Homo sapiens: one gene and its partners. The protein of the gene in region 1 purifies or fractionates together with the protein of each later gene. This does not show direct contact. Each region holds a gene or a part of one and is shown on either strand. Other genes may lie near its edges.

Region 1 (3,947 bases):
AACACAGCACTGGTTGGGGGCAGGTGTGGAGGAGGCGGAGTTGGATTCGCCAGGGTTATGGCTTAGCCCTGTGAGAATGCTGTATCCCTCAAAATAAGAGAGGGGAAAGGGAGTTGAGATTTTGCGCAGCAGTGCGTTTAGGCTGAGTGAGCAGGTTGGTTAGTGAGGACTTGGGCGGTGGGAAGACGGACAGTGCCCTGACAGGGGCTAGGTGCTGGAGTGCTGGGGGATAGAAGTGCGAAGCCAGGGCCCCTGTGTCAAGAAGTTCATACGCTGGAAAGGAACCAGACATAATAAGCGAAACGACTGTCACCGTTCATGGCTTACACCTTGAACAGCTTTCCACTGTGGAGACTAGGGAGTGTAGAGATTGTTGGGGATGGGGGACTTGCAGGGGACAGAATGGGCCGCAGCTGGACCCTAGTTCTCCAGGGAACGCAGTATGATTTGAATACAGATCTCTGCCTCCAGAGATGAGTGACTCGACACCGCTGCGGAGAAGGCTCCGAGGAGGGTTGGTGGGGACTCGAACCTCGGAGTCTCTCCCGACCCGGGGGTCCCAGCAAACCAGAACGGCCACCTAGACAGCCTGCGGACGGGAGAGGACCGGCTCCCTGGCGCAGATCATGGGGCAGGTGGAGAGAGGCGAGAGGCAATGAGGCGGGGGGCTCGGGGTGCACGGCACGCTCCGCACACTCCCCCTTCAGCGCTCACTCAGACTTGGTTTCCCCGAAGACACACTCTCGTCCCCGCCGCTGATTGCCCACTCCTTCCGCCTGCACTCCTGCCTCCTTCTCACCCTTTCGTCGAGCGCACAGGGCGGCTGCCAAGTCGGCACCGGTGCGCACCGGGCCCGGGATCCCTGGCTGGTGTGGAGCCTTGGTCACCGGAGGCCCCCGCGGAGCAGGCCCCACGGCGCCTTGTGCGCTCTCGGAGGCCGAGCTGCGCGCCCGCGTCAGCGGCGCCTCGTTCCTGGCCGGGAGCTGGGACCCGCGGAGCTAGGGACCAGCACCCCCACAGGCGCCCGTCTGACCCCTGTCCCTCCCCGCCCGCCGCGGGCAGGGCGGATCTGGGTAGGGGCCGGAGGGGGAGGGTCCGCCCAGCGGGTGTCCGGTGTCCTCCCTGCAGCCTCTCCCAGGCATTGGTCACTTCTCCGCGGAGGAGCAGCGAAGGCGACAGCTCTCTTGGCGCGGCTGCCTGGGAGCCGGGCGCTTGCTGGGTGGGTGCTCGGGCCCGGTGCTCCCGCTCCCGCCCTGACTGCGCGCCTGTGTGCCGCCGGGGCTGCCCAGCCATGCTGTGCTGCCTGCTGGTGAGGGCCAGCAACCTCCCCAGTGCGAAGAAGGACCGGCGCAGCGACCCTGTCGCAAGCCTGACTTTCCGAGGTGAGAGCCCCGTGGCTGCCGCGCCCATGCTCGGGTGCTACCCGACTCTCGGCGCTCACTGGCGGGTCTGAAGCCCCTGCTCCGGAGCTAACCCTAGTCCAGGCCACAGTTTCTCCCTTTGTCAGCAGGGACGGAAATCCCAGCCCCGACTTCTGCAGGGGGGCGATGAGGAATAAGCAGAGCACAATAAATGCCACAGGGCTTTGAAAAATTGGAAAAGCGAAAGTGCCGTAGGTCAGCGGTTATCACTTTTCTAAGACTGACACCCAGAGGAAATAAAGTCCGAGCTTTTACTGGGTAGTGGGGATAAGGGTAAGTTGGAAGATGGGTGCAGAAGGTAGAGAGGAATCAGGGCCTCTGAAAAACGGGGCGTGTAGATGATGTGCTTTGAAAGTTGTGTCTTTTTTCATTCATTCATTCATTCATTCACCCATCTTTATCCAACATTGGCTGTATTGAATCTGCCCCGTCTTAATCAGTAGGAAAAGGAACAGAATAGGATGGAAATGGCCTTGACACAAGGAGTTTTGAGGAATGTCAAGGATATTTTCTCTAAATTCAAGAAGCTAAGTCCCTACATGTAGTGCTTAGAATACATACAGGTATTTCTGTGTGGGGCAGCAGAGAAATCACACACACACTCCTCTTCTCACCAGGCGTCCTGAACCCCCTCCCCCAACCCCTCCAAGGCAGATTCCCACTGGAGCGGGTGTCTCAGGAGGGGAAAGGGAAGAGGAAGGATCTGTCAAAATTAAGAGAAGGAACAATAGCTGTGAGTCAGGACCCCAGTTCTGCAGAGAAAGATAAATCAGGAGAGGAAAGAGGGTTTCCACTTAGCCAGGAGCCATACCCTGTAGCTTTGTGGAATCGATAATAATAATAATAAAAATCTACGTATCAGAAAAGATAGTCAAATGAAGAAGGAAGAGTAGCTGGTGTTTTCATAAGCCTCCTTCAGTGCAGGCACCAAGGGAACTCTTTTCAGTCTGACCCATGATCTGAATCATATCTCCAAGCACCCCCAAGATAATGATAGATGAAAGACATGATTTGGCAAAGGGAGATTTATGTGTAGCTTTTATTCTTTGCTGTGGGACAAGTTATATGTATTCCTCTTTTGAAAGATGTGATTTGAAACGTTTAAGAAAATTTCACTATTTTCATTGATTGGTGACATGCCTGGGAGTTCACTATGCAAGAGCAACTTCAAGACAAAGTCTTTCCTTCTCCAGTGTCCACCTGATGCTGCCTAAGGCTTTGCTATGCAGAAATTGCGGTGTCACCATTGGCTGGAAAAGAAATTCCCTAAGGACACTGGGCAGGGCACACATTAGCATAGGGCTCTGGATGCTCTAACACTCGTTTGGGTCTGCTCACAGCTCTTTCCCTTGTCCTGTAACAGTCCTGTGGTGGCTACCAATGTCTCCATTCTGCAAATAAGGAAATTGAAACCCAGGGAAGTTAAATGTGTTCAGGTCAGTGGTCATGGCAGGGAGCTACCAGCGCTTGGAGTGGGTATTGCCCTTGAGTCGGGAAGATGACCAAATCCCTTGAGGCCCCTCTTTACTATTGCCCTCGCCCAAGTACCCCGAACACGTGCAGCTGCTATCTCCCCCCAGATCTCTGTATTCCTTCTTTGTAATGCCTTACTATTTATTTGCACTGATGATCTCCTCGGAAAACAGAAATACCATACAATAGAATGTAACATCTCCAACCGTTTCAAGTCTATTTGTATTTCAAAGCCCAGGGCAATGCCACCTTCTCCAGGAGGACACCCTGGATCCCCCTGGCTCTCAAGAGTCTCTCCTCTCTGGATGACAAGCAGCAGCACCTTGCTAGGGATGCTAGCACCCTCGCCCTGACTGGCCTGTGCTCAGCTCCATGCTTAGGTGCCTTGAGAGCAGTGACCTGTCCTATTTGTTCATTGGTTTGTCCCAGTGCTGAGCACAAGTAGGTGCTCTCTAGTGTTTGTGCGCTTTCTGGCCCAGCCTCTAGCCATCCTCCAGGTGTGCCTGGGAGCTTCATTTAGTCTGGGACATGGTCCGCTCACTTGATTGTTCCTGAGAATCACTTGTAGAACGTGTTTGAGAAACAGATTCCAGAGTCCCCATCTGTAGAGGTTCCGATGCAGCAGGTCTGGAAGGTGACCTAAGAATCAGCACTTAACAAATACCCGATGCAGGTTATTTTGGAACCGCATCTTGGGAAAAATGGGTCTGAGATGTGATGGCAGGTGAAATTAATGCGCTCCCCATTGCGGGAGCATTCACTGGGGAGTTTGGGGCTGAGTTGATGCCTAAGGAGGGAAACCGTTAGAACCAGGTTCAGAACTTACAGAGCATGTAGGCTGGGGGGACTCAACTCTGGCTGCAGGTCAACATTGTGTGTGGGAGCTTCACCAAAGACCACTGCCAACCTCCCTGCCTGCCTTTTCTGAAGCCAGATCCCTTCCGGTGGGGCCCCAGGCATAGGTGTTGTTTCTGTCAAATTTCCAGGTGTTTTGAATGTGCAGTCAGGGTTGAGAACCACTGAGCCCAGCTCCTCATGGCACAGATGGGACAG
Region 2 (4,186 bases), on another chromosome or scaffold:
GTATTTCTTTTTCTTCCTCATCTTTACATTACTTCTCTCTGCAGATTTGTTGCTATTGAGACTTTAGGCAATTAGTTTCACCTTCAGGCTCTTTGTTATTCAAATTTTAGTTTTACTTCCTCTTAGAATCATAATACTTCAGAGTAAAGAGAGTCTTCATTTTAGTAGGCTTTGGAAATTGGGAAACAAAGAAGAAAGACTTTTGCATAATGGCATGGCTTGTTAATCACAGGGCATGGGTAGGACATTGTCCCATTGACTTGAAGACCAACACTCAGTAAGCTAAATGTCTTGGAATCACAAATGTATTTCTAAAGGACAGGCAATGTTTGAGGTCTGAGGTGTCTGCTAGAAAGAGTGCATTTAACAAATGTGAGAAATCATTCTCTAACATGCATTTTAACAAATTGCTCTTAAGAAAAACTACACATTGAGAAAAATCTTACAACCTATGTTCACATCATTTTCTACAAAATATTACTTAAAACTTTGCTTTTGAATTTCCTAATTATATAGAATTTTTATTTTCTTAGTTTTCTATGAAAGTGTTATTAAATAAAATGACTTTCTGAAATGTCCATTTTTTTCAATCAAGAGGTTTTTCTATTTCTGTTGTCATATAAAGATGATAGCAGTAAATATCTGTCTCAACATAGAAAGGTCACTCAGTACTTCTCGACAAGTATCTGCTCATGCTTTCCTGCATGGATGATGAAATAAAACCCCATCCTCCACAGTTACTATACTGGTTGTCACTGGAACTACAAATATTTGAACATGGTAATAGAAAAACATAAAAATGCATAGTTAACCCAACTCAAACGCTGTCTGAGATAGTGGAGAGACTTTCTCAAAGTCCTCACAAGTAACAAAGATCTTTATTTCTTCTGCATATGACAGCTAATATAACTTACATAAATCAGTAGGCCTGTTTGGAAAGGTGCATGGAGAACTGGGTTTGTTTCCTTGGTATTCTTATATGCAAATAAGCACGTTTTCCTAAATTTATCCTAATAAGGAGATGAAATCTTGAATCCTACAAAGGTAAGAATTTGAATGTCCTAATTTAATGGACTAAATATAGATAAGAGGTAAATAAAGGACATAGGCTCCCCCGATGACGCATTAAATAAAATTTTTGTAAGGTATTGAGATCTAATAATCATATTGATCTCAGGGATTGTGGAAGTCTTGCTATTCAGAATTAAAGCTGAATTAACGGTCATAAACAACGCTACACAGTTAAACATTAAGGATATGGCAACATTATTAGAAATAAAATTATAACTAAACTTAGGAGAAATAAAAATGGAATTTGATGCAGTCACTGGTTAGGACTCTGAGTGTCGCTGTTGACCAAAGTGGGAAAGAAGCTGCCGCAGAGGCGACCCGACTCTGCTCCCTCCATACTAAACACACAGACCAGACAAGCTCCTACGAAAAGCCAACGCTCCACGCCCATTTTCGTCAGGGAATATGTACCCATCGGCTTTAGATAAATAAGGAAACAGCAGGCTGAACCAGAACTAAGAGAAAATTGGGCAGAGAGAAGGCAATGGCGAGTCCACCTAGGGGCTGGGGCTGCGGAGAGCTGCTGCTGCCCTTCATGCTCCTGGGGACGCTGTGCGAGCCAGGATCCGGGCAGATCCGCTACTCGATGCCGGAGGAGCTGGACAAAGGCTCCTTCGTCGGCAACATAGCCAAGGACCTTGGGCTGGAGCCCCAGGAGCTGGCGGAGCGCGGAGTCCGCATCGTCTCCAGAGGTAGGACGCAGCTTTTTGCCCTGAACCCGCGAAGCGGCAGCTTGGTCACCGCGGGCAGGATAGACCGGGAGGAGCTCTGCGCTCAGAGCCCACTGTGTGTGGTGAACTTTAACATCTTGGTTGAGAACAAAATGAAAATTTATGGAGTAGAAGTAGAAATAATCGATATTAATGATAACTTCCCGCGTTTCCGGGATGAAGAGTTAAAAGTAAAAGTTAATGAAAATGCGGCTGCAGGGACACGGTTAGTGCTTCCCTTCGCGCGGGATGCGGATGTGGGTGTGAACTCTCTCCGGAGTTACCAGCTCAGCTCCAATCTGCACTTCTCTCTGGATGTGGTAAGCGGAACTGATGGACAAAAGTATCCGGAGCTGGTGTTGGAACAGCCCCTAGACCGCGAGAAAGAGACTGTTCACGACCTCCTCCTCACAGCTTTAGATGGCGGAGACCCGGTACTCTCCGGCACCACGCACATCCGTGTTACGGTCCTCGACGCAAACGACAATGCGCCCCTGTTCACCCCATCCGAGTACAGCGTGAGTGTTCCAGAGAACATACCTGTGGGCACTCGGCTGCTCATGCTAACCGCCACGGATCCAGATGAGGGAATAAACGGGAAATTGACCTACTCTTTTCGCAATGAAGAAGAAAAAATTTCGGAGACTTTCCAACTTGATTCCAACCTGGGGGAAATCTCAACTCTACAATCACTGGACTATGAAGAATCCAGATTCTACCTCATGGAAGTGGTAGCTCAGGATGGAGGCGCTCTTGTTGCCAGCGCTAAGGTGGTGGTCACAGTACAGGACGTGAATGACAATGCCCCCGAAGTGATCCTCACCTCTCTGACCAGTTCGATCTCTGAAGACTGTCTTCCCGGAACTGTAATCGCGCTGTTTAGCGTACATGATGGTGATTCTGGAGAAAATGGTGAGATTGCATGCTCTATTCCTAGGAATTTGCCTTTTAAATTGGAGAAGTCAGTTGATAATTACTATCACCTATTAACAACTAGGGACCTGGACAGAGAAGAGACTTCAGATTATAATATCACTTTAACCGTCATGGACCATGGAACCCCGCCCCTCTCTACAGAAAGCCACATCCCCTTGAAAGTAGCAGACGTTAATGACAACCCACCCAATTTCCCTCAAGCCTCCTACTCCACCTCTGTCACAGAAAACAATCCCAGAGGTGTCTCTATCTTCTCTGTGACAGCCCATGACCCCGACAGCGGCGACAACGCTCGAGTCACCTACTCCCTGGCTGAAGACACATTTCAGGGGGCGCCCTTGTCCTCCTATGTATCCATTAACTCTGACACCGGTGTCCTGTATGCTCTGAGATCCTTCGACTATGAGCAGTTGAGAGACCTACAGTTGTGGGTGACAGCCAGCGACAGTGGGAACCCTCCACTTAGCAGCAACGTGTCGCTGAGCCTGTTTGTGCTGGACCAGAACGACAATACGCCTGAGATCCTGTACCCCGCCCTCCCCACAGACGGTTCCACGGGCGTGGAGCTGGCGCCTCGCTCCGCAGAACCTGGCTACCTGGTGACCAAGGTGGTAGCGGTGGACAAAGATTCAGGCCAGAACGCCTGGCTGTCCTACCGCCTGCTTAAGGCCAGCGAGCCAGGACTCTTTGCGGTTGGGCTGCACACGGGCGAGGTGCGCACAGCGCGAGCCCTGCTGGACAGAGACGCGCTCAAGCAGAGCCTCGTGGTGGCCGTCGAAGACCATGGCCAGCCCCCTCTGTCAGCCACCTTCACGGTCACCGTTGCCGTGGCCGACAGGATCCCTGACATCCTGGCTGACCTAGGCAGTATCAAGACCCCCATTGACCCTGAGGATCTGGACCTCACACTCTATCTTGTGGTGGCAGTGGCTGCAGTCTCCTGCGTCTTCCTGGCCTTCGTCATCGTGCTGCTGGTGCTCAGACTGAGGCGCTGGCACAAGTCACGCCTGCTTCAGGCTGAAGGCAGCAGGTTGGCGGGTGTGCCCGCCTCGCACTTTGTGGGCGTGGATGGGGTTCGGGCTTTCCTGCAGACCTATTCCCACGAGGTCTCCCTCACCGCGGACTCGAGGAAGAGTCACCTGATCTTTCCCCAGCCCAACTACGCAGACACGCTCCTTAGTGAAGAGAGCTGTGAGAAAAGCGAGCCTCTTCTGATGTCTGATAAGGTAGATGCAAACAAAGAAGAACGGCGAGTTCAGGTTAGTTTTCTCTTTCGGTAAGGATGACCAGAACATTTTCATTTGTTTCCTTTTTCATGTTTCTGTCATATTCAGAATCAGCTAGTTATGTAAATAGTGGAACATTATTTGCTGTATTGGAGATTAATTTTTTTTATATAATTCATGCTTTCTCCATTTGTTTTCAAATTCTGTTTTGGGAAGTCTAGCTGATATCTGTAGACTTAAGTG
Region 3 (3,949 bases), on another chromosome or scaffold:
CCCTCAGTGTCTGATTCCTGAATTCCTCTGGGGTGATCCCTTCTCACTGCTGGATTTCTCCAACCCTGTTGTCCACAGTCTCTTCTGGGAGAAAATGGTGCAATTTCAAGGTTGCAGTTACAGGAGGAGGGGACAGTTTCTCTAGGGTAACACTGGGAGTATCTTCAAAACCATGCAGTAAATAAAGTGCCAAAAATAAACACCTTGGGTCAACAGCTCCTCACTGTCATCTCCATTTGCATTTTCTAAGCTTCTGGCCACCTAAGAGATCTTACAACACAGTGGAGTGCTCTGGGAAACCCCGAAATGAAGTCTCAGTATTACTCAGAGAGATGTGTGTTTGTTTGTGCAGCCAGACAGAATTTGGCACACGTTGGGTAGCTCGATATGGTGATGCCAGCCAATGGTGCTCGCGTAGAAGCTCAGTGTTCACTCATCCCTTTGGGAGGACTGCTTTTTGAGTTACATTTTCTTCTTTCTCCTTTAGTGATACAGTCTGAAGTATCAAACTGAGTAAATATTGTGAAATGCAAGATGTTTGACCAAAACCAGTTATCTATTCATTGACTATAGATTTAATCGAGCCACATAAAGCCTAGATATGGTTCAGTTTGGTTTAAATGCTGTAAAGTTTCCAATCCTTAAATGCAAGAGGTTTGAAAAAAAGAAAAGAAAAGAAAAGAAAAATGCAACTATTACTGAGCAAAATAAAAGCTCTGTCCTCTAAATGCCTGCTTTGGTTTAACATAGTGGCTTGCTTTACTTTCAGATAAATTGTAATTGAAGCAAAACCAAGATATGAGAAATATGAACTCCCTCTTTCAACAAAACCCATTGTGTTCAAATTCATAAGCAAGAAAGTTAAGCACCCACCTTCCTCTTTAAGGAAATATGAAAGTTGTTGCTTTGAAATAGAATTCATTGCATTCAGACTTTGAGTGATATCTGTATTCATATCCAACCGGATCTGCAGCCCTCTTCAAAAAATTCTTTCTCCTCAGTGGTGAGAATTACCCCACCTGGGATTCACTCTTCACAAGGCTCAAGAAGCCTATTCATATGAATGAAACTGCTTTCTTCAGGGCAGATGCGGAAGCTGCCCTCCAGAGGGCTTGGGCAACCCAAGGAAAGGAAATCACCTCGGTCGGCAGTGTGACTGCTGAGACTGCCGGGGCTGCTGCCTGCTGCTTCTCGCGCCTGTCCTCTCCAAGATGCAGTTTTTTGATGCTGAGGAGCTCCTGGTCGATGAAGAGGATGATGTTTTTGGTGAAGGTAAATGCATCTTTCTGGCAGGAGGCTCTCCGGTCTGCTTTGCTTTGTTTTGACACCACTGGACACTTTTGCCCAGCTTGGGCAAGGACTTGAGTATTTTGAAATGATAAAAACAAAGCATCCTGAGTGAGGTAGTGGCTGCAAATATCAACTTAGGCACTGAAGGAATACACAAGGCAAGGGGTGGAACAAGGGGTTGAGTCATTCCCGCAAATACATTTTTTAAAGTCATGACTAAAATAAAGGTTTAGTTTAGGCTGGAAAATAGTACTAAATTTTTTGCCTTGTCTCTCTTCTGTGCTATCTCTTGTCTAACACCTTAAGGAAAGCCTGTCACAGTGGTTTGAGCACAGCAGGGCTGCTAGGGAAGAAGTTAAATAAATGGACCAGGAGTGGTTTTTCATGGTACCATGTTGCTTTGATTTGCACTTCTCTCTTTCTGTCTCTCTCTCTCTCTGTCTCTCTCTCTCTGTCTATCTTTCTCTCGGTCCTTCTCTTTTTTTTTTTTTTTTTTTTTGTTGTTGTTTTTTGAGACAGAGTCTTGCTTTGTTGCTCAGGCTGGAGTGCAGTGGTGCAATCTCAGCTCACTGCAACCTCCGTCTCCCGGGTTCAAGTCATTCTCCTGCCTCAGCCTCCCAAGTAGCTGGGACTACAGGCGCCCACCACCATGCCCAGCTAATTTTTGTATTTTTAGTAGAGATGGGATTTTGCCATGTTGGCCAGGCTGGTCTTGAAATCCTGACTTCAGGTGATCCACCCTCCTTGGCCCCCCAAAGTGCTGGGATTACAGGCGTGAGCTACCATGCCCGGCCTGGGTCCTTCTCTCTTACTCTTCCTCACACATACTTGGCACTCCAACCCTCCATTCCCTTTTCCAATTTTCTTTTTTCCCAAGTCGGGATACTGGAGCCCTGGTAGCTTCCAATCCCCATTGGCACTGCTCAGTTTTCTGTTCTCATCTTGCAGCTTTTCCATGACTTGACCTATCCACTGGAATTTAACTGTAAAGGTTGCGATTTTAAAGGGATGATCTAGTCATTGGATGGATGTTTTGTTCAAATGCTGCCTATGAGATTGGGCTATAGGCAAAAGCTTTTTTAGAATTTGGAGCCACCTAAATAAAGGAAATTTGGACTCAAGAATCTCGTGAATTTGATTATTTTCCGCAAGAAACTACGTCTAGCAATTTTTTAAAAAACTCTATTCAGTAATTTTTTAAAAGGAACAGTAGTAAGGTTTTTGTGTATGTGTAATTACCCAAGCAATACAAGTTCGCTGAAGAAAAATTAGAGTGTCGCAAAGAACCCCTTGTAATCTAGTCATGTAGAATGTAATCATGGTTAATATTTTGATGTTGTCTTTCTGCTATGTTGTTCTAGCTACAGAAATATTTAAAATCATTAGTTGGGTTTTTATCACAACTTAAATCAATTTGAAGAATATCTATTGAGCTTCGCTGCTGTTTACCAAGTTATCATTCTGTTGTGTTACTTTGATGGCAGGCGTTTAGGCCACCAACACCTTGAAGTTTGATCTTAGGCCCCATTCTTCAGCTTTCACTTCTTAAAGATGTTTCCTCTTTAAGCAAACACCTTAAAGAGAAAATTTATACTTAGATACTAACTCTTTTGAGGACCTGAAAAATGCTCACAACTATGAAGATAAGCTTAGAACGGAAAAATTGGCAATCATTCACCCACACCTCCCTCCAGGAATGGCATTCCAAAACGCCCAGCCCACATTTCTTTGCCTATAGGAATTTTGCTCTTTTACATCTGGCTATGATACTTAAGAGCGCCCTCTATAGGCTGATGCACTGCACTCTGGATTATGCGTGGCCCCATCCTGAAGGGAAGCGTTAAGACCAAGCAGGGCTGGATGAACCTGTGTGTTCTCTCTCCTGAGCATTCATCATTTCCAAGGTGATTATTGTAACCTCACTAACCATGTTGTAGTGGAATGGCTGAGGTCCCCAGGTTCCAGGTAGCTAGGTAACCAGCTAGCTCTGAGGTGGGAAGTGAGGGAGGTAGTGCAGGTTGATAAGTTGGGAGTCAAACGAGATTCAGACTCAGATTCTGGTTCTGCTTCGTGGTACCCATACAAGCTAACTTTGGTCTCCTCAATGGTGAAGTGGGACAGTAATACCTATCGGTTGTACAGATTATCTTCATAGTAGATGCATAATGTTTGCGTTGCACTTCAATGTGGTATGCTTTATCTTTTCCAAACTGATTATCTCATTTAACTTAATCCCTAAAGATTAAAGAGAAAATCCTTGCAAGGCCAACATCCAGTGTATTTTTATTCAGTTTTCAGAGCCGTGGCTCATGTTTGGCAATTTATGTGAAAGCATGTCCAGCTGCTGCCTCATTTTAAGCAAGCTCTGTGTGGGGTAACAGTCAAAAGCTTCAGCTCTGGAATTGCACGGTCTAGGCTTTGCCAACCAATTCACTTATGACCTTAAGCAGGTTACCTAATCTCTCTGTGCCTCAGTTTACTCACTTATAAAATGGAGTCCAAACCTCATATGGCTGTGTGTGGCTTAAGTGTTATGATAGGGAAAGCTTTTAGAATAGTGGTCAGTACTTAATACATATGAATCCCTATTGTCTATTTACAAAAATGGGTTTATAGAATAGTGACCATTTTTTCACGTCTGGTTAACCTCAGATTCAAA
Region 4 (3,500 bases), on another chromosome or scaffold:
CCATACTGGTTAGGGTAGCCTTTTAACATAGGATGTTTAAGCTGGAACTTTAGAATCCAGAGTCACAGGTAAGTGGCTATAGAGAAAAGCCCAGCACAGAGATATCCTGACATCCAAGTTCAATGTTTTTCCCTGATGCCATGATATTTCTTTGCTGTCAAGCACATCATGATCCATTTAACTCTGAAACATTTATTGTATATTCATTATGTCCCCAACATTGCATTATAATGCTGGGGTGGCTGTTTCACCGAGAAAAAAAGTCATAATTTTTGTCTTGAATAAGATAATCTAGGATACGAGAAACAGAAAATAGAATTGAAAGCCAGGAAGCCCTGTCTTGATCCCAGAAATGCCACTGTGTGATATGGGGAAACTCACTTTCCTTCTTCAAGAGTCACTTTTCTTGTCCTTAAAATAAAGGATTTGGGTTAGAGATCCTCAAAGGCCTCCTATAGCTGGTAGCCTATGGACCTAAATAGAAAGATAAGCACACAGGAGGTGAGAGGAGAACAGCGCTCAGCAGGCAAGGTCCCAGGTGAGCAAGTGCAGAGTGGCAAGTGCTGAGGCGAAGGTGTTCCCAGTGATGAGGGCTACATCACATAATTAGGAAGTTCATTTAAGAAACAGATGCCTCTAACTCCTGTACTCTCCCACCTCCTATATTAAGCACCCTCAACTTCACTAAAACAATGCCTCCACCCCAAGAAACTCATTGCCCCAGACTTTCCTCCCAGGCCAGACCTGCTCAAACAGTGCTTCTCAAACTCTAATGAGCACAAGAATCCCAGGTCCTATGCCCTGAGGTTCTGATTCAGTCAACTCTTCATGCCGGTTGTCCTTAGGCCACTTTTCAGAAACCCTAGAACAGTGGCCTGTGTTCTGGACCTTCAGTGGCTGTTCCAATTAGTAAATGAATCGATTTGCTCTGAGATGCTAATGGCTAGTGTTTTGAAATATCCCCTCAGGGAGCATTTGCAATTTGACAGGGAACAACCAGAAACAGTGAGAATTCAGAAAGTGACAGGCTACCAGGGGCTAGAGTGGGGCGGTTTGAGGACAGAGAGTCCCCTCTGTGTCAGCTCTGATAGCCTTAGCCAGTACTAAATGAGCCTGATGGTGGGGCCCACACATCAGAGGAGCTTGAGCAAGGGTGCTGCAGAGGCAGTGGACAAAGCCACTCAGGGCCATCTGCAGGGAGCAGATGGGTTGAGTCATGTGCTGCTTCAGGTCCAAGTCATTTTGAGGGCGTTTTGAGCAGAGAACATCTTAGTTTCATTACGAGGTTATATCATCCTGTATTCAAGACTGTTGTAATGGGATAATGGCCCCATTTCTACCTACCAAGTACAAAGTCATCCACAACTGTGCCCAAACTTAGATTTCCGGAATGAATTCAGGTCCTCACGTTATTCCACTATCAATGCTTACCCATGTCCTCCATCAGGGAAATTAAAATAAAGACCAAAGGCTAAAAAAGAAAAAAAAAAAAAAAAGGCTGGGCAACCAGCAGCTCCAAGGCTTCCAAGGCTGTTGAAAGCCAGAACAGCAGCCTCCTGAGGGCAAGGAGGGGGCTGAGAGGGGTGCAACTGAGTCAGTGATCCCTAAGCCACCCAGAAAATCCAAGAAGGGATAGGAGCAGCAAGCATGGGACATTTAGGAACCCCTGGGTGATGCTGACACACTCCCTGACTCAGGCCAATTGGGATCCCTGAGAGTAGGTGATCGAAGGTTACTCCAAGCTCAGAAATGCCAGATTTCTACACCTGGCCCCTCAGGTCACCCAGCATCACTCAGGACTCTGAAAAACAGCAGTTCAAGTCTGGCTAAAGCAGCCAACCTCAGTTTGCTCATCTTTAAAGGTGAAGAGCTCCTCATCCTGGAGGTAATCCTACAAAGGATGGATGTGGCTAGAGAAAAGAATGGGGGCCCAGCTAGGAAGGGCCTTGAATGGTTTTCTGGGGAACATGCAATATATCCTAAGAAGTCTTGGGAGGCAAGTGAGCTGGAGGTAAGGCTAGGAAGGAAGCTCCCGTAGGCGTTCAAGCCAGACAGTATGGCAGCCTATGGCAACAGTGAGGAGGAGAGGTGTAGACATTTGAGAAGGAATCATTTAGAAGGCAGAAGCAACAGGATTTGGGACTGAACTAGCTCCTCTCATAGTTTCTTGTGCACCCTTTGTAACTTCTGGCACAATTCTAATTAATAAATGTGTATTCATTTAACATTTGTCTTCCCTGATAGACCGGAAGCTCTATGACAGCAGATCTGGATCTTCGGAAACAAGCACAGGCCTGACACAGAGAAAATGCTCAACTAGTGTTTCCTGAGTGAATGAATGAGATACAGAAAATATAGAAAAGGGAAAAATCAATGGTAGCTCCCAAGACTTTGGCTTGGACAGTGTGGGGGCTTTGCTGACATAAACACACTTGGAGGAGGGCAGTGAGGAAGTCAGGCTAGAAGTCAAGTCCCATCTTGACCTTACTGAGTGGGAAGTCCCTGTAAAACACTAGGCATTTGTATGTTCTGACCTGAAATTCAGAATAGAGGACAGGGCATAAAATATACATATATTTGGGGATCATCAACTTACTAGTGATCACTGAAACCTAACAGAAGATGAGATCAATCAGGAAAAAGAGTTTCAAGTGAGGATAATAAGGGCCAAGTACAGAAGCTTTGGGGAATGCAACATACTAAAGGGTCAAGTAAGAAAGAGCAACTCATGTAGGACAGCAGGAGCCCCCAGACAAAGGAAATTAGAACAGGATAAATTCATGGAAGCCAAAGAGTTCCAAAAAGTGGGAGCAGGTCAGATAAGGACAGAAAACTGTCCATCAGATTTAGCACCAGGGATCCCTGATGTCTTGGGCAGTTCTGCTGGCATGATGAGAGTGAACACCAATCCATAATGGGCTATGAACTGAACATAAAAGGTGTGAAGGAGTAAACCATGTAAACTACTCTTCTAGAAAGCATGGCTGTGGACTGAAGGGAATAGGGTGCTAGTTGGAGAGAAAACAAATGAAGAAGGAGGATTTTTAGGAGAAAAGAGATCCAACCATGTGTTTATCTGCTGATGGAAAGAGTCGATGCAGAGAAAAAGGACAAAGATACAAGAAAGAGGGGAAGTCATTGGTGGGGTAAAGTCCCTGAGAGGACAGAAATGGATGGATGATCTCCAAGGGGTAATCCTTGAAAGGGGAGTGGCACCCCCTCTGCCCTCTGGGACTGCAGAGAAGGAGGCGAGGGTAAACATAGATGGGGGTGACTGTAATAACAGGGGACAAATACAATTGAGGGGCCCAATTGGTGCCTGTATTTCTCTTTCAGTGAGGTGAAAGACAAAAAATGACTATATATCTATAAAGTACACATTTTCATGTAATGTTTTCTATGAAGCTTCCATAACACCAATCCAATTAGGCGACTATAAAATATCCATTGTCCTTGAGATGCTCACATCCTAGTTGAGCAGGCAACACCAAGGTGGGCTG

What was found.
Region 2: the proteins of DYSF (region 1) and PCDHGA5 purify together in Homo sapiens (co-immunoprecipitation; one large-scale study listed by IntAct). This does not show direct contact.
Region 3: the proteins of DYSF (region 1) and RIPOR2 purify together in Homo sapiens (affinity purification with western blotting; one study listed by BioGRID). This does not show direct contact.
Region 4: the proteins of DYSF (region 1) and LRRC52 purify together in Homo sapiens (co-immunoprecipitation; one large-scale study listed by IntAct). This does not show direct contact.

Annotation. Positions count from the first base shown.
Region 1 is NC_000002.12:71,465,552-71,469,498, forward strand, and holds the start of DYSF (dysferlin), read left to right. Parts: upstream 1-1,147; 5' UTR 1,148-1,291; coding exon 1,292-1,382; intron 1,383-3,947. UniProt on the Homo sapiens protein: Key calcium ion sensor involved in the Ca(2+)-triggered synaptic vesicle-plasma membrane fusion.
Region 2 is NC_000005.10:141,362,776-141,366,961, forward strand, and holds the start of PCDHGA5 (protocadherin gamma-A5 isoform 1 precursor), read left to right. Parts: upstream 1-1,386; 5' UTR 1,387-1,555; coding exon 1,556-3,976; coding exon of another isoform or gene 3,977-3,997; exon of another isoform or gene 3,998-4,186. UniProt on the Homo sapiens protein: Potential calcium-dependent cell-adhesion protein. May be involved in the establishment and maintenance of specific neuronal connections in the brain.
Region 3 is NC_000006.12:24,933,161-24,937,109, reverse strand, and holds the start of RIPOR2 (rho family-interacting cell polarization regulator 2), read left to right. Parts: upstream 1-1,149; 5' UTR 1,150-1,211; coding exon 1,212-1,272; intron 1,273-2,739; exon of another isoform or gene 2,740-2,864; intron 2,865-3,045; exon of another isoform or gene 3,046-3,135; intron 3,136-3,949. UniProt on the Homo sapiens protein: Acts as an inhibitor of the small GTPase RHOA and plays several roles in the regulation of myoblast and hair cell differentiation, lymphocyte T proliferation and neutrophil polarization.
Region 4 is NC_000001.11:165,550,500-165,553,999, forward strand, and holds part of LRRC52 (leucine-rich repeat-containing protein 52 precursor), read left to right. Parts: intron 1-3,500. UniProt on the Homo sapiens protein: Auxiliary protein of the large-conductance, voltage and calcium-activated potassium channel (BK alpha).